3 separate regions of the Homo sapiens genome follow, and all the other regions are linked to region 3. Evidence: fine-mapped expression QTL. A gene starts in region 3. Each other region holds a variant in brackets. All regions are shown on one strand. Distances are between the middles of the regions. Region 1 has its middle 10 kb from the start of LINC01936. Region 2 overlaps LBH (LBH regulator of Wnt signaling pathway). Region 3 holds the start of LBH (LBH regulator of Wnt signaling pathway).

Evidence for each region. PIP is the estimated chance that this variant, and not a neighbour inherited with it, causes the effect.
Region 1: its variant is fine-mapped to the expression of LBH in whole blood (TOPMed, PIP above 0.99).
Region 2: its variant is fine-mapped to the expression of LBH in whole blood (TOPMed, PIP above 0.99).

Annotation. Positions count from the first base shown.
Region 1 is chr2:30,332,501-30,340,677 of GRCh38, reverse strand. No RefSeq gene overlaps it. Among named protein-coding and RNA genes, the nearest start is that of LINC01936, 10 kb to the left of the region's middle. RefSeq lists enhancers at 2,619-2,858, 3,239-3,428, 4,289-4,358, 4,369-4,428, 4,519-4,618 and 1 more. The variant G/C (reference allele first, on the strand shown) is at 3,432.
Region 2 is chr2:30,254,336-30,262,512 of GRCh38, reverse strand. LBH (LBH regulator of Wnt signaling pathway) reads right to left here. Exons shown (of 3, transcript NM_030915.4): 3 at 2,485-5,080. The coding sequence ends at 4,892. Among named protein-coding and RNA genes, the nearest start is that of LBH, 27 kb to the right of the region's middle. The variant T/C (reference allele first, on the strand shown) is at 4,514.
Region 3 is chr2:30,228,224-30,236,400 of GRCh38, reverse strand. LBH (LBH regulator of Wnt signaling pathway) reads right to left here and starts at 4,867. Exons shown (of 3, transcript NM_030915.4): 1 at 4,637-4,867; 2 at 1,894-1,996. The coding sequence starts at 4,662. RefSeq lists silencers at 1-172, 3,868-3,927, 3,938-4,137, 4,528-4,617, 4,818-5,367 and enhancers at 5,171-5,685, 5,686-6,201.

The sequences.
Region 1 (8,177 bases), 100 kb before region 3:
GAAGCCATCCTCCCATCTAATCTCAGCCTCCTGAGTAACTGGGACTACAGGTGCACACCACCACGCATAGCTATTTTTTTTTTTTTTTTTTTTTTGTAGAGACAAAGTCTCACTGTGTTACCCAGCCTGCTCTCATACTCCTGGACTCAAGCAATCCTCCCACTTCAACCTCTCAGAGTGCTGGGATTACAGGTGTGAGCCACCATGCCCAGCCCACACTGGATTTTAAGGACTTAGTATGAAAGAATGTCAGCAATCTCATTAAAATGGTTTTTATTGATTTCATGTTGAAATAATAATACTTTGGCTATATTAAGTTAAATAAAAATATTACTAAAATTAATTTCACCAGTCTCTTTTTACTTTTACGTAACTTTTAGAAAATTTAGAACTACATATGAGGCTTGCATTGTTTCCATAGCCAGCACTGATCTATACGGCTACTTGACCTCTCTGTTGCAGTTTTCTCAGCTCTAAAATGGGGATACCAATAATATCTGTTTTACAGGATCATCATAAGGATAAAATGAGTTAATATTTGTAAGGCATTTCGAACAATACCTGACATATGATAAGTACTTTTAAAAATCTTTGTGAAATAAATAGATGGTGCTTAACATTTTTAGCATCTAAACTGGTTGGATAGGCCCAGGTCCCCTACAAAACTGAACTTGAGGCAGAGCTTAGGGGCTAATGTTTTATTGGAGGGTATAATCCCAGGGAAAGCAGGACTGAGGGCAAAGGGGAAGTAAGGCAGGGGAGGAGGGAAGCCATCACATCATAGTTTTTTGTGGAGCTGGCCACAGCTTCCCAAGAAAACACATAGCTGATTGCTTGATCACGTGAGCCATCGAGAGAAGCAGTATGGGACCACTGCATCTTGGCAGAACTGTTGAGGGAAGGAAGGTGAACAATTTATCTGCCAGTTCCTTCCCATCTCCTGCTCACATTGGTTAAGGTTTGCCACTTGTGGAGTTAAGTCCTTTGCACTTTCTGCTTATGTCACTAGGCCCTTTTGGAAAGCCACCAGAGAAGTCAGAGATGCCTAAGTTCAGATGGTTGGACATGGGCTCTGGAGCCACTGAGGCCCCTGACAGGGAAGGCGCCATGGAAGGCTTGATGAAGCCTGGCCCTCATCTGTGGGGCTCAGTCAGCAATGAAAGGTGAGGCCATAGCAGTGGCAGCGAGGTTCATAACCACCGGGAGGTCATCATACCACGGTGGGGCTGCTCCAGCTAGGAATCAGGGCAACAACTGAGCCTAGGGGAAAATGGGGCCAAGCTGAGGAAGGAGGCGTGTCCTATAAGCCCCATATGCCCTGCCTCTCAGATCCTGATCAGATTTGCTTACTGGACCTCGACACTTACATGTCTCACAAGCATCTCAACTTTAGTGTTTCTGAAACTGAAGTTCTGGTTTCCGTATTTGAGTCTATCCCCTGACCTAGCCCCTCTGTTTCCTATCTTCTACAGTTCAGTAAATTCACCCACTTGCTTAAGCCAGAATCCTGAAGGCCATATTTGAGGACTGGCTCTTCCTCTGCCACATGTGATCATCAGCAAGTCCTATGGATGTAATCTCCAAATTGGATCTTCAAGCCATCTGCCTTTCTCTATCTCCACCAGATAGCGGGTCACCAGCATCTCTCCCATGGCTATTACAGTAGATTCCAAGAGGGTCTTCCTGCCTCCTCCCTTTCCTCTCTCCAGTTCTTTCTTTACACAGTAACCAGAGTAATCTTTCACAGTATAAATCAAGTCATGTCTCTTGGCTGCTTTAAAACCCTGCAGTGGCTTTTTACAATAAATCCGAAGTCTTTTCCATGTTCTACAAAGCCTTCCATGACCTCACTCCTGTCTTTTCCACCTCACCTTGAAACCCTCCCCTTCCTCCCTGGCCCGGCTAGCCAGCCTCATTCTTTCCTAACACACAATGCATGCTTTATTGTTTCAGGGCAGGAATTGGCAGAATACTTCCTGCTTCTGTTTTATAAATAAAGTTTTATTGGAACACAGGCATGACAGAGATTGATGGACCATGAAGCCAAAGGTATTTACTATCTGGCCCTGCACCGAATGTTTGCTGAACCCTCTTTTGGGGCCTTTGGCCTTGCCTCTGGCTCTTTTTCCAGTTTGTAGCCCAGTTGATTCCTTGACTTTCAGCTCTCAGCTTACATGTTACCCCTTCAAATGGATCATCCTTGACAACATTGCTTCAGTGGAAGTCCCTCTCTCCAACCCAAAAACACCCTTATTCTCCATCACACACTCTGCTTCTGACCTTTGTAGCATTTTCTCAATTTTAGATTACATATATATTTATTACTTTACCTGTTTACTGTCCATATCCTTCCCTGACAACTCTAAGCTCCACGAGGGTAAGGACTGTGGCTGTTTTGTTCAGTATTGCACTCCTTGCACCTCCAAGTGCCTTCTCTTGCTAATAAACCACCGGAATTCCTGCATCCAGTTGAGGCTTGATCCCTTCAGAGCGGCTCCTACTCTCCCAACCACTCCGCTAGTCTGTATACTGATCCAGCAATTCTCCGCTACTGAGGTGAGGTTGGGCACAGGTGATGCTTCCAGAGAGCAGTTGAGTGTGGAGTCTGAGCCACAGGGTTGCATTTCCTAACAATTCTCAGCCATCTGAGGAGTTGTGACACCACCTCACTGTGTGTTTGATTTTTAAAAAATGATGTTACAGGCCGGGTGTGGTGGCTGACGCCTGTAATCCCAGAATTTTGGGAGGCCGAGGTGGATGAATCACCTGAAGTCAAGAGTTTGAGACCAGCCTGGCCAACTTGGTGAAACCCTGTCTCTACTAAAAATACAAAAATTAGCTGGGCGTGGTGGTGCCTGCCTGTAATCCCAGCTACTCGGAAGACTAAGACAGGAGAATCACTTGAACCGGGAGCCGGAAGTCGCGGTGAGGCAAGATCGCACCACTGCACTCTCCAGCATGGGTGACAGAGTGAGACTCTGACTCAAAAACAAAACAAAACAAAAAAGATGTTACAATTCCCTCACTGTTCCACACATTCTAGAAAATAAAAACTGAGCACAGGGTAGCATGCATTTATCTTTCATTAAAACAACCTGAGAGTTACTTTGGGGAGCAGTAATTCTGGAGGGCTGCCGGGAGGAGGTCCCTCAGCAGCACTTGTAGTTGCCTCCTCTGCAGCCACCTTGAGCCTGTGCCACCTTCCAGGGTCCTGATTCCTTGCTAACTTCCCCAGAGCACGGGCTGGACAGGTGCAGTTGGGGCTGGGAGGCCAGGCAAGCAGCTGCAGCTCAGGGGCACTGAGGGCGCGGGCCTGGAGACCGTTCTTGGGGAACAGGCCGAAAGAAACCAGGGACATGTAAACACATCAGACTGAGACTCAGGCCCCAGAACCATTGCTTTCAGATGTACACAGGCAGTCATGGGGAGGA[G/C]ATGCAGAACAGGAAGTGGTTTAGAAAGCCACTCTCTCAGCTTTACAGATGAGAAAACTACATCTAGAGAAGGGACCTACCGGGTTAAAATTAGAACGGACAAGAACACAGGTCTCTCACCATTCTCCTAGTGTGTTCTTCTAGGCTGAATCACCCAGGCTGTCCTAAGCTTCTAAGGTGTCCTCCCGGACAGTATCTAGAATGGCTGGGCACAGCTAGGATTTCTCTGGAAAGCTTCATGGAGGGGGCTTGGAAGAGCACTGGACTTGGCCTTGGGTGAAGCTAGGTTTGAACCCTGTCCTCTCAATAGCTGCAAGTCCAGGACTAATGTCCCAAACTGCTTTGAGCCTCAGTTTCACAACCGTAAACTGTGGTAAGAGTCTCTGAATTGCTGGACAGTTTTGAAGATTCAATGAAGTAAGACCCGAGTGTGCCTCAGGAGTTCCAGATACATAGCAGGCATGCAGACATTCAGTCAATATTAGTTGGATTTTGAGTAGCCAAGCTAGCAGAGGAGGGGCCGGAGCAGGAAACCGTGTATCCATGGGGTATGGTGTCTTCTATAGTAATTCCAAATGAGTTCATCAAAGGAAGAGTCCACGACAAATGGCCCTTTTCCATCCCCTCAATCCCAACCTCCCAGAATACCATGTTTCGGGTACTACAAGGATGACGGTTGCATCTCTCCAATGTCTTCAGAGGAATCAGGGTTTATACTCATAACATCTTACATCCTGGGACATAGGTTTCAGTATGACCTATGCTATTGTCTTTGGATACCTGCTTACCAAAGGCATTCCACCCTCTCTAGGCCATTTGATAAATATCCAGCGAAACAATGTTATCATTGTTGGGTGGTTCAGCTCCCCACCCACTCTGGCAACAAAAGGATATCGTTAATGTCCTCTGTGCAACAAAAGGATATCATTTGTCTTAATCTGGGGCATGTGTTCAGAGTCCTTTGAGATCTCAGAGCATTCTTCTTCCCCCAGATCCAGGTTGCCTGACTGTGCTCTGAGAAATTCTGAGTGTTCAACAGAGCCTCTGCTGGTGGGAGAGGGGCCAGAGTGGGTGGGGTGCTGAGCCACCCATCACCCTTCCTTCAGAGAAGTTTCAGTTTTAGCTCTTTGCATATTGGGTATCTTTGTAAGATTATATTTGAACTAAAATTTTTGCAGTTAAAAACCAGTTTGCAAATTGTGCACTGGAGACTGAAACTAATGGCTGCCAGGTTCTGTCCTAGGTGGTTGGCACATGTCATCTTGCCTCATATACTCCTCCTGATAACCATTTGAGTGGGTGTGATTAGCCTTGCTGCCGTGATGAGGAAACAAGCATTCTGAGAAAGGAAGGAATTAGCTTTAGGAGCTAAGAAAAGAAGGATCCCAGGACTGGAACCCAGGCCTGCCTGGCTGGAAGCGACACCTTCAGACCCTGCAGAATACTATCACAGCGTGATGCTAATAACATGGATTTCCAGTTGGAGATCTGGGTTCAAGTTGTGTTTCTGCCTCTTCCTACTTGAATGATCCCTGACTGGACACTGTATGTTATTTGAGCCCTGTTTTCCTCCCTGAAAAAATGGGTATGATAATAATACTAGTCAGAAGATGCACACCCTTACATCACATTCCAGTGATGCTATTTGTGTGGCATCTTGGGGGAGAGACCCCGACTGCCTCCTTCAGAACCCCTCATCCCCAGGCTGAGCTGGCCTGACTGCCAGCAGACTCCTCATTCATAATGATCCCAGTCTTGGGGTTGCTGAACCTGCAAGGGTGAAGTTTCCCTGGGGGCCCAGAAGCCCTTTCTTGCGCTCAGTCTGGGGCTATGGGGCTCAAGATCAAAGTGTGTGCTCTGCTTTCCCTGGGTGAGACACATCCCTTCACCCTGCAGCCTTCTTTAATTAGCTCAGAGCCTTAGAGCAATACCTTTTTTGGGTTCTTATCAGCACTTCCTGATAAAGTAATTAATGGGTTTCTCTTCTCCACTGAGCATCCTGCTGCCCCAGAGGGCTGAGCTGGGAAGGAAGGGGCTAATTAGCTCCTGTGTGATTATCTGGCTAAAGCAACTGCGCCAAGTCTCTGCAAATCTGTATGGAGCCCTCATCCTCCCCTGGGTGAAACTTCAGCTCTCTGTTTATTCCTTTTGCTTGGTGCCAAGTCTGCCCACAAAGTTCAGCCCCTTCCACAGAGAGCCTCTCTTTCTCTTATCACCAACATCTGCAGGTGGCACTGTGGGACCCAGGGTCCTGCCTTGAGCCTTGAAGCCAGTCACCTGGGAGCTCTCAGGGAGGTCCCTGGAAACCTGAGCATTCCAAAGCGAGTCCAGACTTTCCAAGCCTGCCTCTGTGAAAAACACAATGGCAGCAGAGTGTTGTGGAAAGAGCCTTCATCTGAGGCCATAGACTGACTCTAGACTGCCACCTGCCACCAAATAAGCTGTGTGACCTTGCGTAAATGATGCATTCTCTCCAAGTCTCAGTTTCCATAGCTTTTTAAAAAGGGAGTGGGGACAGGGAGTTGGTATATAATCAGGGATGGCAAATGCGTGGTTTTCCCAACTGTGATGAATTTGTCATGACTCTGCACCATGTTGACAGCGATGAAGCCATGTCCAGTTCCAGTGGGGAGACTGGAGATGCTGACCATGATGTCTGTCATTGTTGATGTAGGTGCAAGGCTTCCCATCAGCAGCACTACTGGCATTTGGCAAGGGCTATCTTTGCTGTGTTTGACGGTGCTATACCTCTCAGGTATTAGTACCTTTCAACAGCAATCATTGAAAGGCAAACAAATACTTTGCATGTTTCCAAAGATCCCCTGGGGGCTATGCTATCCTTGGTTGAGAACCTTAGGTAGGCAGATGGTGGTAAGGGTCAGGATTCTTTGGGCTACAAGTGACAAAGACCATACTTAAATTAGTTTAGCTAAAATGGAAATACAGCCATTTATGTAACAGAGAAGCTGAAGGAGAGACTTGGGCTGCCTTTCTCCATCCAACATAGCTAATTAATCTCTCCTTCAGAAGAATCTGCGGTAAGGTAAGTTCTTTTTAGATCCTCTGCCTCCCCAAGCCCTTTCTATCTGGGAGGAAACAACGGAAAAGATGAGCAGCAAGGTCATTCCAAAGGTGGGGGATAGATCACCCCTTTGCTCAGCCTGGCAGGCTAGAACATTAGCAGGGACTTAGGCACAGCCAACTGTGGGTGCCTGCCTGGGACTTTGTTCTAGAGAGGCCACACAAAGACTCTTGGCTCTATCCAAGGTTATTGTTGGTGGCGGTGGTGCTGAAGTTGGGGTTTTGGGGCAGGGTAAGTGTGTCCAGAGGTGATGGGGTCCAGTAGGGCAGTGATGGCTGTAGCAGCCTCCCACGCTGAATTCCTGTGATGAGGACTCGCCTAGGCCTTTGCCACCCTTAGCTTCTACATGTACTTTTTTCTTCGGCCTTCCTGTTTATCCTGTGGGTGGCCCAGGACCTTTCCAATAAATTATTTTCCTGATTAAGTTAACTAGAGCCAGTTTCTATTGCTTGCAACCCAGACCCTCGCTAATATAGTTGGAGTGGGGCATCTGGGTAGGACGAAAAGCCAGTAAGCAGGTCAGTTGCTCCAAAGTCTCGGGGGGCTTCTGGAAGGTGGTTAGGAAGCAAAAGCCAGCAGGACCCAAAGGCCACGGAAGCAATTTTTCTTGGTGATTGTGCTAGTGATCTCACTGAAGACAGGAAATTCCTCCTCACAGAGAAGACTCACTTCTATGTAAGGCTCCGCTTTTGGGGGCTAGTTCCTGGCACCCCTATCTCATGATCTACCTCTTTGCTAAGCTCAGGTCCCAGTGGCAGACAGGATGAGTCTGTGCTGTACTCCCTACCCATCATGCCCCTTTCTTTACCACATGGGATTCAGTGGATAGGTGTCTCCACACTTGTCACTGTCAGTTCTAGAAAACAACATAAAGCAAGTGCCTGAGCTGAACGCACAGCCAGAGCAGGGCCTGGGTCTTTCCCTCCTCCCAGATTAACTCAGACACAGACAAAGAAGGGCTGGGGTTCTTGCTATGAAATCTGTGGGTGGGGAGAGTCCGCTTTGCAGTGGAGTTGATTGTAATAAACTCCCCCTCCTCCTCCAGCAGGAAATGGCCAATGTAAAACCCTAAATGAGGGCCGGAGTCTAGAAGAAACTGTAATAGGAACAATGACAGCATCCTCTGTAGGAGCTGCAAAGAGAACAGACCAGGATGTGAACCTGGTTGTTTTCCTGTGAGATCCTCTGCTACATTGTTTGCCCAAGGTCAAGGCTCTTTGAGTTAGCCTAGTGAATTGTTCACCCCCAGCCTCTCACCTCGCAAGTGCTCAGAGGGTCAAAGCCATGCAGTAGAGATTGGGGGTTGAGACCATGAACTCTGGACTTTGGAGCCAGACTGCCTGAGTCCAAATTCCAACTCTGTCACAAGATGAGTACATGTGGGCAAGTTATTAAATTTCTGTGCCTCCATTTTCTCCCCTGGAATGATAAAAATAGGATACCTACCCCTGAAATTCCTGGGGAAGAATTTCCATTCTTCAATGAGATCACCTCATAAGATTACCGTGAAGAGTGAAAGGGCCTGGCACAGAGCATGATCTTAATAAATGTCAACATCTTAGTGCCCTTGTGTGGTACCTGATCATGGTGGTTCTCCTGACCAGTTGAATAGATGACCCAGTTCTCCAAGGTATTCCTGAATGAGGCCAGGAAGTAAGAATAAA
Region 2 (8,177 bases), 26 kb before region 3:
GAACACCTACTGGGTGCTCAATCTGCACACCCCTATGCGGGAGTTATTAGTCTTATATCCATTTTACAGACAAGAACACTGAGGATCCTAGACATTAACAAAATGGCCCCACAGCACCTATGGAGGGGCTGCACAGGACTCGAATGCAAGTCAGCTCGAATAACACAGCAAAGTCAGCCAGGTGTCACCCAATCCTTCTCCTTCAGGGAAGAGGAGGCAACTTGGGGTGAAGCAGGAGGGTATTGAAGCAACTGGCTAACCATGAAAAAGAATAACGAAACTTTTTTCCAAACAAATAATTATTTTGTTTAAAAGTCACATGGAGGCAGTGGGAGACAGAAGTGAAGACTCATCTTTCATCACCAGGGGCTATTTTCCTATGGATATCCAATTGTTCCAGTACCACTTGTTGAAAAGACTTCCTTCCTCCACTGAGCTGCCTTGGCACCTTTGTCAAAAATCTATTAACCACACATCTGTGGGTCTATTTCTGGACTCTATTCTGTTCCACTGATCTATTTGTCAATCTTGATGCCAACACCACACTGTTTTGATGACTGTAGCTTTGTATTAAGTTTTTGAAACTGAGAACTGAGAGTCCTCCAACTTTAGTTTCCTTTTTCAAAGTTGTTTTGGCTAGTCTGGGTTCTTTCCATTTCCATAGGAGTTTCAGAATTAGATCATCAATGTCTACAAAACAGCTTGCTGAGGTTTTGATTGTGTTGAGTCTATAGATCAATTTGGAGAGAATTGACATTTTAACATTGAGTCTTCAGATCCATGAACATGGTAGAGCTTTCATTGATGTAGGGATTCTTCGATTTCTCTCAGCAGTGTTTTGCAGTTTTCATTGTTTTGGAGGTTTTGCATATTTTGCATCAGAGTTACTCCTAAATAGTTTATATTTTTTTATGTTAATGTAAATTGCATTTTAAATGTCAAGGTTCTGTTATTTTTTTTTTTTTTTTGAGTTCTGGGATACATGTGCAGAATGTGCAGGTCTGTTACATAGGTATACATGTGCCATGGTGGTTTGCTGCACCTGTCAACCCGTCATCTAGGTTTTAAGCCCTGCATGCATTAGGTATTTGTCCTAATGCTCTCCTTCCCCTTACCCCCCACCCCCCGACAGGCCCCAGTGTGTGATGTTCCCCTCCCTGTGTCCATGTGTTCTTTGTTCAACTCCCACTTATGAGTGAGAACATGCAGTGTTTGTTTTTTTTGTCGGTGTTACCAACATATAGAAATGCAGTCATTTTGAATATTGAGCTTTGATCCTGCAACCATGTTAAACTCATTTATTAGTTCTAGTAGCTTTTTTGTGTAGATTTCATAGGATTTCCTACACAGATGATGTCATCTGCAAATAAAGACAGTTTTCTGCAGGGGTGTGTTCAAGGAGGCTGCATTCTAATAAATTCCTCTTCAGGCTGCTGGAGAAAAATAAAGGGGCAATCCATATGAGGAGGGTAAAGTCCGGCCAGTTATCCTTGGGGCAGCAGATCCATAGATCTAGTTGTTTCACTAAGGCTAGTGTTAAAATGGGTCATTATTCTGTAAATCCTGGTAGACACCTTCAGCACAAACCACTGGATTCTCTACACTTACCAAGGTTAAGGAACCCGGAGGAGGGCTGGGTGAAGGCAAAAATAGCCTTGGGTTAGAAAAATGCCCCCAAATCCCTTCTACAAACCACCATTCTCTCACTCTGACCTCCACAAAGCCTCCTTCCTGGTCTCTAGGTTTTTCATCTTGCCCCCTCCAATCCCATCTCCATTGAGCCAGGTTGTATTAAAATGTGAAACAGACCATGCTAGGTCCTTCCCTTAGAATAAAATCCAAACTCCTAGCCAGGACTGAGTAGCCCTCTTGCATGCTTTCCTCTTCTACCACTCCACCCGCCAAGCCCTTGCCAAGCTGTTCTCCCTGTTGGAATCATTTTCCAATGCCCCCAACTCCCCTCTGCTCCCTGCCACCTAGTACCTGGCTAACTTCTCCTTGTCACTGCTTCCAAAGACCTTCCTGACCCTCCCAACTGATGTTCACACTCAGGGCATCCCAGTTTGATCCTGCCTTGCACTCACCATATTCGTCATTTAATTTTTCACCAAGGCAGGGCCATGAGAACCAGGGCCATTGCCATTTGTGACCTTGACCTCTTACTAATGCCTGCCAAGCAGTAGGTGCTCAGTAAATGCTTTGCATGATAGCCTGAGCTTGCCACATGCCCACCCACTCACCCTCCAGCCCCTGTGAATGACCTTCAGATATGTCTTGGGTTTTTCTTCCTTTAGAAGGGTAGTTCACACCTTGGCTGTGGGTTAAATCTCCCCAGTGAATTCTCCCCAGACAAGCCATCAGGTGAGCTACATAAGGAGCCTCTCTTGGGACTCCCCCAGCTCAGCCTCCTGCAGGACTTCTTCTTGCTCCTGAGCTCACTCCATTCCAACGGAACAGGAAGGGAAAAAGGAAACCAGACCAGAGTGGAAAGCATTTTCAAACTTTATTTACAACTGTCACAGTGACAAAAAGTAGTTTGGAAAAAAAAAAATGCTAGTTTCTCCCTGAGCCTCAAAAAAGAACAGATAGAAGTTACAGGAGGTTCATCTCACAACAGGCATTTTTACTGAAATACTAGGAATTTTTTCAATACAATCAGTTAGAAATACACACAAATTACTTGAAAAAAAAAAAAAGAGGAGGCCAGATAGGAGCTCAGCCACTTGTCCAAGAGCAGCTGGGTCCCCCCAGCAGGCTCCACCGCTGAGGGTCCTGACATTAGCTGTCAGCCCCTGGCCTGCTCAGACTGCAAACGGTCATACAAAGTGGTCTAGGGACCAGCAAAAATAATAAACCACCCCCATAAACAGACACATACACAAAGTAGATTTGTTACGCAGTTTACAAGCATGTTCCCATCACACAGCAAGACCAGGACAGGTGATTCAGGGTAGCAGATAAGGGAAGACACCAAAACACAGGAATTGAAAAGGCAAGACCCCCGTCCACAAGGGGAGGCGAGGGAATGAGAGTATGGATGAACCACTCTCTGCAGCCAAAACAGAACGAAGCGGGGAGCAAGAGAGAGGAAAGCCCCTCTCGGTGCAGGCTGCCGGCCTCTCCCACTTCTGCGAGGAGTTGGAAGAAGTTATTGCCATTGATGTGTGTCACACAGGCAGACAACAGAGGGAGGAAGCAAGGGGTGCCGGCGACCATTGGCTTCCCAGAACGGAATTCCGCGGACTGCTGTGTCCACAGCGCACCCTCGTCCTCCTGCCCCGGCATCCCCAGAGCCACAATGACCTTGAGGTATTAAATACAGCTATATACACACGTCCAGAACTGAGGGTCAACCTGGACTGACTGGAGACCTGAGGGGACATGCTGCGTGCCTTGGTTGGCCGAGTTTAGCTCAAGGAAGGCTCTGAGTCCACCTCTTGGCCACACGGTACTGCTCTCGGCGGACTGAAGCATTTGTCCTGCAACCTGCTGCTTCAGATGGCTCTTAGCTACAATAAGAAATCCTAAGTCCAAAGGCCAACTTTCTCATACAACTGGTGCCCTTGCAGGAAGCAGTGGGAGGTGGGGAGGGATGAGGACCACTGTTGAGTAAGGACAGCAGAGGTCCCTTGCCATGCCTCCCTTCTGCCCTTGTCCGGGAACAACATGGGGAGAAGCCAGGGATCTCATGACATCCTTTAGTCTCAAACTCGATCCCAAGGTTGCCACGACAGCCTTGTCCCCACCATGCAAGTCACCTCCCCAACAAGACACATAAAAAGCCACGTCTGCTCTCCACTAGGCTCCCACAAGAAAAACAGACCAAGATCCCCCATGGGGCGTGAGTACTGCAGCTGGGCAGACTGGCGGGAATCCATAGGTGAGCTGGGGACCCATGTACCCATGGCTGCTGGGGCTGGGGCAGGGAAGGTGGCGGTGAGGAGAAGGAAGGGCCAGCCTGGAAGACCACGCCCACTCCATCTCGGGAGCAAGTCTTGGAAGGGCAGCAGTTAAGGGAGAGACCTTCGTGCTGAGTGTCCACCCTGGGGCTTCCAACAAGGGCAGGAAGTGCTCTCACTACTCCTAAAAAGTGCTGGGAAGCAAAATGGATATATCAGGGAGAAAAGCTGAAAAGCACTGCCTCTTAAAAACCGATCACACTGGCTATGTGAGCCTACCACAGCTGGGAGCAGAGAGGCCATGGAGTAGAATGGGGTGACCTTTCCTTTCCTGCACTTCACCTCCAGCTGGCTTTGCAGGCAGCCAATTGCTCCTGCTCTCCTTTACTCTCCTCCCTGTCATATAGACCAACACACCTGAAATGAAAGCAAAGGGTGGGGTGGGTGAAACTGGAGAGAGAGATGAAGACTTTGTTTTCTGATGTCCCAGCAGCCAGAGTGAATGTCTGCTGAGCGCATCCTGGCTGCAGTTCTCTGCTCAATGTTTTCTTAAAAACATGTATTTTTTCTTTTGCCTCATGTTTGTTTTCTTACCCCAAATGTTCCTTGCTTGC[T/C]TTGCACATGCCCCACCTCCCACCCACCAAGACCCATTGGAATCCCACCACTGCCTCTACTAGGCTGCCTGAGTTCAGATAATGATCTCAAAAACAGCACTCGCTCCCCTCACCCACTAACCCCCTGGCTCTAAGCAGCTTCCTTTCTCAGAGGGCCTTGCAAATTGTCAGAGGGCTCCACTGCTCGGCAAATTTCAAAAAAAAAAAAAGGCAAGAAAAGAAAAGAAAACCAACTCGGTGATCTGCAGGTGCAAAACAGAAGCCTCGTTTGACATTTTCAGAACAATTGCGGCTCACTCTCTTCTTCCGTCATGATGGGAAAAACACAGTTCAGGAACAGATGCTGGCTGGTATGACCCATGGGAGTCCACAGGGACTCTACTGCTCTTTATTTTCTTTCGCTGTCTCTTCGCAGTTATCTTGCTCATCCTCCTGGACCAGGAACTCCTCAGGGGGCCACCGGAGCTCCCCGCTCTCCACCTCCCCTTCTGTGGGTTCCACCACTATGGAGGGCAGACGGTCCTTCAGTTTGCAGCAGCGGTCAAAATCTGACGGGTCTGGGAAGATCTGAAAGAAAAGCAGAGCAGGTGCCTGGTCACGTAGATATTTGAAAAGAGAAATTCCATTCCTTCTTTGCACATCCATGTGGCATACTGGGTGCATGCCATAGGCCAGGGACTGTGCTTTGCACTCGGGAGGCTGTGGAGTATATAAGGTGGGAGCCACGGGAGAATATTCTGGGGCAACATAGGAAACTGTCCCTCAGTCAGACTTCCATTCCAATCCTGAAGCTGAAAGTTTGGGGGCAGTGCCGCTGAGTTTAAAGGTTGATGTGATTCTGTTTGGATTCTGTATTTTATTTGCAGATAAAATCATCCCAAATCATGTTATCCACAGTAAGTCTGGTCTCTCTCTGCAGGAAGTATTTTACTCCAGCAGTACAAAGAATACAACAGGTGCCACAGCATTAAGTACCTCCCGGAATAATTATTGGCACTAAGTGAGCAGGTTACCAGGTGCTATACATATATCACTTCCAACCCACACAGTCATGCTGAAAAACAGGTGTTGCTAATGCTAGCTTAAAGAATCTCAGGCTTGGGAGAGTAGGTGGTCCAAGACCAGACAGCCTAGAAATGAGTGAGGGATGGGATGAGATTGAAAACTGGGTCTGGGCTGGGCCTGGTGGCTCACACCTGTAATCCCAGTGCTTTCGGATGCTGAGGCAGGTGGATCACGAGGTCAGGAGATCGAGACCATCCTGGCTAACATGGTGAAACCTCTCATATGGTAAACTACTAAAAATACAAAAAAAATTAGGCGGGCATGGTGGTGGGCGCCTGTATTCCCAGCTACTCCGGAGACTGAGGCAGAAAATGGTGTGAACCCGGGAGGCGGAGCTTGTGGTGAGCCGAGATCACGCCACTGGACTCCAGTCTGGGCGACAGAGCGAGACTCCATCTTGAAAATAAAAAAAAACAAAAACTGGATATGTTCGATTCCCCTGCCCCAACACCAGCTTGTCCCTCAAGCAGATGGGTCCTCATCCCATTGCAACTGTAAAGTCAAAGCCAAATCCTGATGAACGGCATGGTCCCCAGTCACAGGCAGGCTGGGAACAAAATCCAAGGATCCTTTTTCACCTGTGAACAGTTCCTGGCTTCTTGCCAGCTCTACACCTGAAGGAGTCTACTTCTTTTTCCAGAGTCCCGTCAGCCAGGCTTTGTTTTTTAATGCCTACTTTGTGTCCTGCCCAGAGCTGGCAGAAACTCCAAACCCAGCTATAAAATCAGGGCCAAATCTGGCTCTGCGGATTCCCTTTGCATACACTGCCCTGTGACTACAGCTGACCCAATTCTTGGCCCAGCAGTTTAAGTACTTAATCCGCTGGGCTGCTGGTCCCTGCCATTCACAGCCCTCAGTGACACACCCCAGAGCTAGAGAGAGAAGCCTCTGTCTGGGATGCTGGGCTCCCAGAATCAGGCACTTGGCACCTTCATGGCCATCTCTTCCCACCTCTCCATTTGGTAGATGAGCAACTCAAGGCCCCAGAGGGGTCAGGAGACCTGCCTAAGGTCACACAGCTTGTTCATGGCACAAGAAAGGAAAGCAAAACTTTGAGTGGGTGGAGACACATTTGAAGAGATCTGGGGGGCTGCCTGGTCCTGCCTGCACCTTGATCCAGATGGGGACAGGCCCACGGCAGCAGACAGGAGTCACCCATTACCAGGACATAGAAGAAAGGCCCTTTTACAAACTCAGGCCTTCCCAACTTCTGTGGTGCTCTGAGGATACCCGGTCTTATTGCAACCCAACCCCATGCAGTGCTGCCCCAGCCAAGTCACACTCTCACCACATCACAGGCCACGTGGGGCTTCCAGGAATCACAGGCCTCAGTGAAGCCTTCCCAATACCTGCAAACGAGTGATTATTAACCATTTATCCAATAAGACCTATTGCTGGGGATTAAGCCTTAAGCCAGCTGCACAACCAGGCATCATTAAAGACTTAACGAGGCTCATAAAAGGTATCATAATGGCAGCCAGGAGGAAAACAAGTCCAGGGAGGGGATGGGCCAGTGTGGGTCACGGAGGCAGAGGGGGACACGGACCCCGACTCTGGGCTCTGTCTTCCTGACCAGGTTGGCCCAGAAGTTCTGCCCTCAGACGGCGCTGTGCCCAGACGTGCATGTGCCGAGCGAGGAGCGCCACGTGGGCTTTTTGGGTGCGTCCTCATTTCTTGGGTGGGGCCAGAGCCCCCCATGGGCTGTGAGGACACAAGGCGCCCTCCAAGCATGAGCTCTGAGAGTGGGTGAGAGGGACCCCGATGGAGGGAAGCCCACTACAGGTCACGAAGCTCTTTCAGATGTCAGCTCGTTCAGGGCTCACTGCCACTCTAGGAATAGTAAGACCCGGGACTCTGTGGGTCACATGGCAGAGCCAGGATTCAAACCTACATCTGCTGTTTTCAGTGCCTGAGCCTTCTGGAAAATGGATTAGGCTGCTGCTGGGTCTCCACCCCATTTCACAGATGGAAAACTGAGCAGGGAGGGAGAGTAAGACTCTGGGCCTTCACTGCCCAGGCAGCTGTGAGGGCCCCAGCCCAGGAGGTGAGCTTCCCAGTCCCAATGCTTGTTTTAAACCTTCAGGATCCAAGACAGCGCCATAAGCTGTCAAGAGGAGAGGGGGACCTGCCCTGTGAAGAGCCTGGCCCTGCCTCCACCCTCTGACCTCACTGCCAGGATTGTGCCTACCTGTGCCAGGGCCACATTGTCAGGGCTGGGAGAGTGAAAACCCAATTCTAACTATGACAGCCTAAGCCAAGGAAAAGCAAAAGGCATGACAAGCAGGGCAGGCCCAGCAAAAGGAGGAGGGGGGGAGGGGGAGGAGGAGGAGGAAGAGAGGAGGAAGAGGACGAAGAGGAGGAGAGGGGTGGGAAGCATTGGATTTCACTTCAAGCTGGAAACAGGTCTTTCATTAAAATAAGGAAAAAAATCTAATGATGATGATGATGGATGAAATTTTTCCTGAGCAGAATCTCAAACCTCACAATAATTCTAGTTACCACCCCCCAACTTATCCACAGTTTTGCTTTTCTTGGTTTCAGTTACCCACGGTCAACTGCAATCCCAAGATAGGTAGGTACGGTACAATAAGATATTGTG
Region 3 (8,177 bases):
TGGATCCTTTGCTCAGGCAGTGCTGAGATGTGTCAGGCACCCAGAGGTGATTTTATTTTCCTGCTGCCCTTGCAGCCCCAGGTTGGCCTTCCTCCCCCAGCTCCTTCCTCCCTCACCACCTGCCCTGAGTCTCAGGTCCAGCAGAATGGCCTGAAGGACTCGAAGCATTGAGAAAACGGCCCTATAGGGCCTGGCCCTTTATCCTGGGATGTATTTAAAAGGAAAATATGAAAAGCACACACAAGATGAACAGATGACTGCATTTGGAAAGGTTCTGTGATGGAAATCTAAAACCCAGAACCGAAAGAGAACCTCACCTGTAACCACAAAGAGATTCATTCTGACTCAGGGGCTTGGAAACTGCTACCCAAAACCCCCTGGCTGGTGGGCCAGGAAACTTCTACCCCTCCCACCAGGTTGAGGGGCCCTCAATTGTCTTCCTCAGACCCACTCTGGGGGAGGAGGGTAGAAAAGTCAAACGTAGCAAAGAGAGTTCCCCCTTGCTCCACACACCCCCTTCAAGCTAATGGCTACTTATTTCAAGACAGGCCTGCCAATATAGACAACACAAAGGGGCCTCCTTAGCCTCCCAAGCATGTCTGAAGTTAAGTGACCCTGCCTGAACTTTTAGCTTGGTTCTATCTGATTACTTTCCCTCCATGGCACCCACCCTGGCTCCCTGGCTTTCTATTTGATTTTTTTTTTTTTTTAATTTACAAAATAAATGTCCCTGGAACAGTTCTAAGGAATGACCAGCCAGAGTCAACCTAGACCCTAGCGGAACCAAGCCATGGTGTGGACACACAATACATCAGAAGAACAAGGCTCTGGGGTTAGACAGACCCAAGTCACTGACTCAGGCTGAGCCATTTCCTCATCTGTGAACAGGGTGAGGATCCCCGCCTGGGAGCTGTGGTAAGATGTGAGCAAGGCAGCGTCTGTAGAGTGCTTGGCGTGCAGTGGGCATACCTTCATGTCTGTAGCACGGACCCATGGACCCATCACACTCCCTTTCGACTTCCCTGGGCTGGCCATCCTACACAACTTCCCTAGCTCCAAGGTCTTCCTTAAGAAGAGACTCCTCCCTCCCCCCAGTTTAACAACATAGGAACTCTCCTCCAAAACCCCAAACCAGCTCACAGCCCAGAGGGAACTGCAGGTGCTCCATTGCTCCCACCCCCAACCCAGGGGCAGTAGAGAGGCAGCAGGGCAAGCCAGAGAGAGGGCTGGGGTAAGAGTCCAGAGGGCTCACTCTGGTCCCTTTTTGTGATCCTTGTGCATTTTGGATCCACCAGACAGGATGATCTCCAAGCAAGATCCCAGCAATAGCATCCCTGAGCTAGCCTCCCTTTGGGGAAAATATCTTCCTCTCTAAGTGGTTTGAATGTTAACTCTGAATCAACAGGTCAATAATCAACCCAAGGAAGAAAGCAGCATTGGACATGGCTATCCCCACCAGACCACCCTTCTGCAGAAGCCCCCGACAGCAATGCTTCTACTACCCCAGGCATGGCTGGGAAGGAAAGTTCTGGTCTCAATCGACTAAACAAATCATTTCCTCCTTTGCTGCGGTGAATGGCAAAGTTCACAGAGCCAGTAGGGTCAATTCATCACAATGGCTAATGCTTGCTGAGCCCTTATCTGTCCCAGACACTAGGAATGCTTCCTACACATCCACTTGTCATGGTGAATCTTTACCACAATCTTAGGAGATAAGGACGATTGTTGCCCCATTTTACAGATGAAGAAACTGAGGCTTACTGGCATTAGGGGACTCTGCCACAGTCCCACAGCTCTTATATGTGGCACTGGGATGCAAAACCAAGTCTGTCCTCACCCCCAGCAAAAACCACTAGGCTCTAGAGAGTCAGAGGGGAGCCAGGACTTACTCACCTGGTAGGAAAGGCCATCCTTGCGGGGGCTGAGGCCGATCTCCTCCATGGGCTGGGTGTTCATCATCACCTCAGTCATCTTGGCCGATCTCAGATAGTCGGGGCTGCCAAGAAACCCAGACCAAAAGTCAACAAACACACGCGCTTTCACATTCCTAACTCTTCATGCATTCACTGCTGTGGGATCAGGGGACTGTCTGGAGACAGGAAGAGAGGTGTTCAAAACAGAACTTGCAGCAAAACAAGCTCACACCCTGAGGAAGCGCCTTGCAAGCCCACAGCCCCAGGGCTCAGCCGCAACAGACAAAGCCCATTGTCTGCAGACCTCTCTGGCAAACCTCTTCCCTCCTCTCCTGTACTCTAGTCCCCACTGGCACAGAGGGACCCTGAATGTTTCTTTAAATGACAGAACCAGAGAAACCAAAACAGTAGGTAGCTGAGTCCATCTGTCTATATTAAAACCAATTCAACCACATCTCCCTTCACTTCTCCAACTAAGAATAAAAATAATCCTCACATGAACTTTCCAAAGGGGAACTCTATATATTATTAATACACAATAACAATAACAGGTCAACTGGAGGGAAACAAAGTCCAATCATACAGCTTTCCTAAATTTGTCTCTCTGGTGCTCCTTTTGGCAAAATGTTCCACTTAAAGCCCCAAGGGGTCAGCTTTTCTGCAAGTTTCACATCTGCCATCCATCCCCTTTCTCTAGCCCCAGACACAGCAGCTGCATGCTCACAGCTTGAAAAACATCCCCTGGATTAAAAGCCTTAAGGATACCCGACTCTGACTGCAAAGGAAATTTCCAGAGGGGCCAAGCTGGCCCACCAATGGCTGACATGTGAAAGTGCCTTGTACTCTCTAAGCAGGATACGAATATTCCCTTATCCTTGCACAAACTCTGGGCACATACAGGATCCCGTGCACATAATGCTGAACATAAGCACCAAATACAGGTACCTGCTACACAGCACCCAATGCTTTCCACCATCGTGCCTGTGCACATGGTTTAAAACAAAAATATGGGGGAGTCTTTTGAGGGACAGTATCTAAGGAAACAGGGGTACCAGATGCCTCTTCAATTGTATGGTTACTACATAGATAAGAAATGACACTGGATTTAGAAACAGAAGCAATAGGTTCTAGGCTCTGCCCCTCAAGAACTGTGTGATCTTGAACAGGTCCTGTAACTTCTCTGAGCCACAAGTGTCCTGTTTGTCTGTTACTCTGATGCTAATAGTGCATACCTCACAGTTAGGTTAAGGGCTAATGTCTGCATAAAAGCATTGCAAGCTGCAAAGTGCTAATCGATGAAATAAACTTAAACCTTAATTTCTCATAATATTCTTAATGGGTCCAAACACCCACCTTGGCAAATTTTGAGCAGCCAAAGGCACAAAGCCTCCAACAGCCTTCAAAGCTTCACCTATAATAAGGCACCTAGCTGCTCACACACCACGGGAGAGGCAAGGGAGGGGCACCCACAAGAAGGGTACACAAGCCTCGGGGTGGGGGAACTTGAACTGTTGAGAGAGGGAAGTTCAGTCCCCTCTCTAAACACTGCCAGGCTGGGACGGATGGGGGCAGGGAGACTAACAGAAGATGCGGGGCTTTGCGGCAAGTTTAGGTTCGGGAGCTGGGCCCTGCAAAGGCAGTTTCCTCCCGGGTCTTGGAAAGGCTGCTGGCGACCTCCAAAGAAAGGAGCCAGAAGAGCGCACGCAGGGTGAAGAGTCTGACGTAGGGGCGGCTCTTCCTCGCTCGGGGCTGTGGCGCCGGCCCGAAAAGTTGAAGCGAGAAGCATGAACTTTCCGCTTCTTGGGCCAGGCCGGACCCCGCCGCGGCTTGCGCCGGTTTTCCCTTCGCTCAGCGCCTGCCGGAGACTCGGGGCCGAGCTCCCCACGTCCGCACCTGAGAGCGCGCTCCGGGGCTGCCGGCGCTCGCCCCCGGCCGCTTCTCCTCTAACCCAGAGCAGGAAGGAAGAAACTGCCAGCAAGGAAGTCCCAGCAGTCAGGGGCCTGCCTCTCTCTGCATCCCTCCCGGCTCCGATCCCCAGTCCGGGGCAAACCTCCGACGCCCCGCGCCCGGCCCGGGCTCCTTCCCCTTCAGCACGGCGAAGGCGGCTCCTCCCAGTCCCGGCCCCCACCAATGTGCGTCGGTTTTTAGGGGCGGTGGAGAGGGCAGGGGTTGAGAGGCTGCAGCGCGTGCCCTGCTGCTTGTGGCTTTAGTGGGGTTACGTGTGGGGAGAGCGTTTCCCGCCCCCCACCCCCCCGGAGCTCTGCAAACCCTGCGGCCGCACCAGCTCAGCCCCGCTGCTGCCGGCCTCGACGTTGAGACTTGCATGCAAACAAAAAGAAAAAGAGGAGGGGCCCGGGAAGAGCAGGAGCCCCCCTGCGCCAAGTGGGGCGCGCGCCTCCTGCAGCTCTCCGCATAGGGTGGTTTCATTGGGGGGGATTCACACGTGACCCCTGGCTCCCCCGCCAACCAATACAAACCCTCCGGCCGTCACTTAGGTGAGGGCTCCGAGTTCACGTCCTTTGTCTGGATGTTCTCAGCACCCCCTCCCCCCACCCCCACCTTTGCAACCTTGACGTTGACTCCTGCACGGGCTCGGGCGGCGGGTTAGCGCTGAGCGCCCGCGCCGCCGGCTGCCCTCGCACCCGGAGCCGGCACGAAGCAGGCGCCCGGGCCCGCAGCCACCGCCGCGAGACAGACGCCCGCCGCAGGCGCAGGGTACTCACCAGTGAATGGGGAAATATATAGACATGAAGTCCTAGGGCAGGCTGACACACGCCCCTGTGATTTAAAAACGGTCCCTGCGTCCCGAGTGAGGATGACACGGGCGCAGACGGGCACGGCAGGCGGCCGAGTGCGGACACCGGGCGCTCGCCGTCCGCCTTCCCAGGACAGCCCCACGGCTAGCGACGTCGGCAAGGTGGACACAACTCCCCGCTCTCCACTGAGCACTCAGCCCCACAAAGAGCCCGGGAAGCCGTATTTATAGGGGCGGGGGCGGGGCTTGGCCCCGAGAGGCCCCGCCCTCCCTCGCCCACTCCTGGAATAACGTCACCAAAATCATGAATGGCTTCAGCGCTCGCAGCTCCGGCGGGCGGCGGCTCGGGGGCGCGCTCGGCTCTGCTCCCGGGGCCGTGGTTCGCTGCGGCTGCGAGCCCGGCCCCCTCCCGCCGCTCTCCCACGCGCACACGCGCTCACTCGCACCGGCCCGGACTCCGCGTCCGCGCCGCTTCCCGCTCACAGCCCCCTCCACGCACACCCCGAACTCCAGCGCGGCGGAGGTGGGCGCAAGGAGGGCGCGGGGGCCGCTCGGGACATGACAGCTCGGCGGCTGCTCTGCGCCGGGGTAGGGCACCCGCCACTCCTCCACCCCAGCCGCCCGGCGCCAGCGCCCTCCTTCCCATCCACTGGCTGTCCCCAGCCCACCTCGGACCCCTCTGAAGCGTTTGTTCCCCATACTAGGCCTCTCTCTGGAATCCTCGCCCGCAGCCTTGCGATCAGCGAGGGGAAACAAGAGCATGGTTAAAGAAGAAGCGGTGGGAAGGTGGCAGAGACGCGGAGCCGGGGGACCGAGTGCCCACGGGGCGCGTTGGCTTGCGAAGGGCTGGTCTGCAGCCCTGAGTTCCGTGGAAGGTTTTATTTGTGGGAGCAAGGATGTGGTGTCGTCCTGGGTAGGATTTTTCCATTGGAGACACACATACGCCCGGTCTGCAGCGGGGGCAGAAGGTGTGGGCGGGCGGTGTGCACGCCGCCCCCCATCCTTGACTCCCACGTCTTCTCCGAGGAGTCGCTCATGACAGCAGAAACAAAGAGCTTTAGCCGAACGCCTCCCACACTGCCCAGGAATTGCAGCTCTGGGCGTCTGTCCAGGCAGTCAAAGCTGCGCAGCCCCCCAGAGCCACATGATGGGAGTCTCACTCGGGACCCAGCGCTGCCGCTCTGTGGCCTCCGCTTCAATCACGCCTGTAAAATGGCTTTAGAACCCTCACCTACCTGTGTATAGGGGCTGAGGAAAGGGGGCGCGGGGAGATCAAAAACTAAGCAAAATTAAATTGGCTTTGAAGTGAATCAGCTTTTTAAAAGAAAGGCAGTGAGTGTATTGAATCCGTATATATGTACTTGAAAGTGGAAACGCATAGCTTATCTCAGGCAAAAGGATGACAGAATTAATGGCGAAGGTTCGACAGGGGTAGGACCCTGAAGGAAGCCGTGAGAGAAGACCCTCATAATTTTCATCAGTCCCCGCAAAACCAGCCCAAACAAAAATTATAAGAATTGATGAGAATAATTTATTTAAAAATAACTGGGCTATTTTCAATCACTTATATGCTTATATGTACAACCTGAGTTAAAATAGTGTGCTTCCTATGAAAACACAGCTTCATGACAAGCCCCTGGCTGCCCCCTCCAACCAGAGAAATTCCCCCACCTCCCAAGCTAAACGCATTCTCTTCCTCTGGGGGTGTTGCCTGATGGAGGGGCTAAACGGGAGATGCTGCAGGGATGGGGTTATTGTTGATGTCCTGCACAGAGGGTGGGGAAGCTTCTCAGTGTCACTAGCCAGGTGTGGCACATTGTCATCTAGGCAGCCACAGGAGACGCCAATGCTTGGAGAGCTAGTTTCCAGGCTGAGACTTCCAGGCACTCAGAGGAAAATGTCTGGGCTAGACCCCGGGTGGGCAGGATGAAGCCTTCTGCCACTTCTTCCCAGTAGCAATCTCTGGTGAGGCTGGGATCAAAGACTGTTGCGCCACTTTTACACATAACAGACACACTTTATGTGTTTGTGATTATTGCCATGTGAAGCTTTCAAAACTCAGAAAGCTATTTCCCTCCCTCCCCATTTTCCCAAATATCTAAATGTCAAAATGGCCTCATTTTGGAGAAGAGGGTGGGGAGTAAGGCCTCCACCAGCTGTTATCTGGCCTCTGGAAAAATCCTCTACATTGGAGTGCATTGAGGGAATTACCTGAGGCCTACTCTTTGGGAAACTTATTAATGCCCATTTTAGCTAAAGTTCATCTCTGTCAGTAAGTTAAAATAGAAATAAGCCTGGGGTTGTGATCCCCAGTCTGCATTTTCTGTTTCTCCTCTGGAATCACAGTGACACATCCATTCATTTGAAAATATGGGAGGTGGCTGGGTGCGGTGGCTCACGCCTGGTAATCCCAGCACTTTGGGAGGCTGAGGCAGGTGGATCACCTGAGGTCAGGAGCTCAAGACCAATCTGACCAACACGGTGAAACCCCGTCTCTACTAAAAATACAAAAATTAGCTGGGCGTGGTAGTGGGTGCCTATAATCCCAGCTACTTGGGAGTCTGAGGCAGGAGAATCGCTTGAACCTGGGAGGCAGAGGTTGCAGTAGGCCGAAATTGTGCACTCCAGCCTGGGCAACAAAAGTGTGACTCCGTCTCAAAAAAATAAAATAAAATAAAATAAAATAAATAAAATAAAATATGGGAGGCGTGGGGCTAAGCTTTGATGCAACCATAACTAGCATGCCATTTCTCAGTTATACTAGTCTATATGATGCCTTGCAGGTTTTTTTTTTTTTTTTGAAGCATTTCATTGTCTTGGCTTTCAAAAGAATGTGATAAGGTTAACATAGCACAACTTATGGTCCTCAGTTCACAGATATGTAAACTGAGGCCGAAATAAATTAGGAGGCTTGCCAAAGATCACACAGCCGGAAAGTGGTTGAGCTGGGCCTGGAACTCAGAGGTTGTAGGCATACTCAGCTTCCCCTTCTGTTAACATAGCTCTGGCTGACTGCCTTTCCTTCATATCTCTAAAGATACAGAGTATTTCAACATGCACACTGACCATTTCTTCCCAATATCCTATGAGATAGGTTTCTGTCCCTACTGCCTTTGAATAAATGAAGAAACAGAAACACAAGCGAATGAAGTTACTTAGAGCCCCAGAACCTTAGAGCTGAACGAGACCTTCCAAATCACCTTGTCCCAGTCTCCTCGTTTTACAGGTGAGAAGACACCTAAGAGATTAAATGGCATGTCCAAGGTCACCAGGCTATTAAGTGGTATAGATGGAACCTAACGCAGGTCTTCAGACTGCTGGTCAGATGTTCTTTCCACTTTAACACTGCGTCTTGCACTGCATTTGCCAAGAAGTCAGCAGCAAAGGTCAAACACAACGTCTGGACTCTGTAAACCACCACAGTCCATCACCAACATTTATTGAACATCTACTAGATGCAGATCAGTGAACTAATTACCCAGTCAGAGCCTCTGCACTCCCTCCCTTCT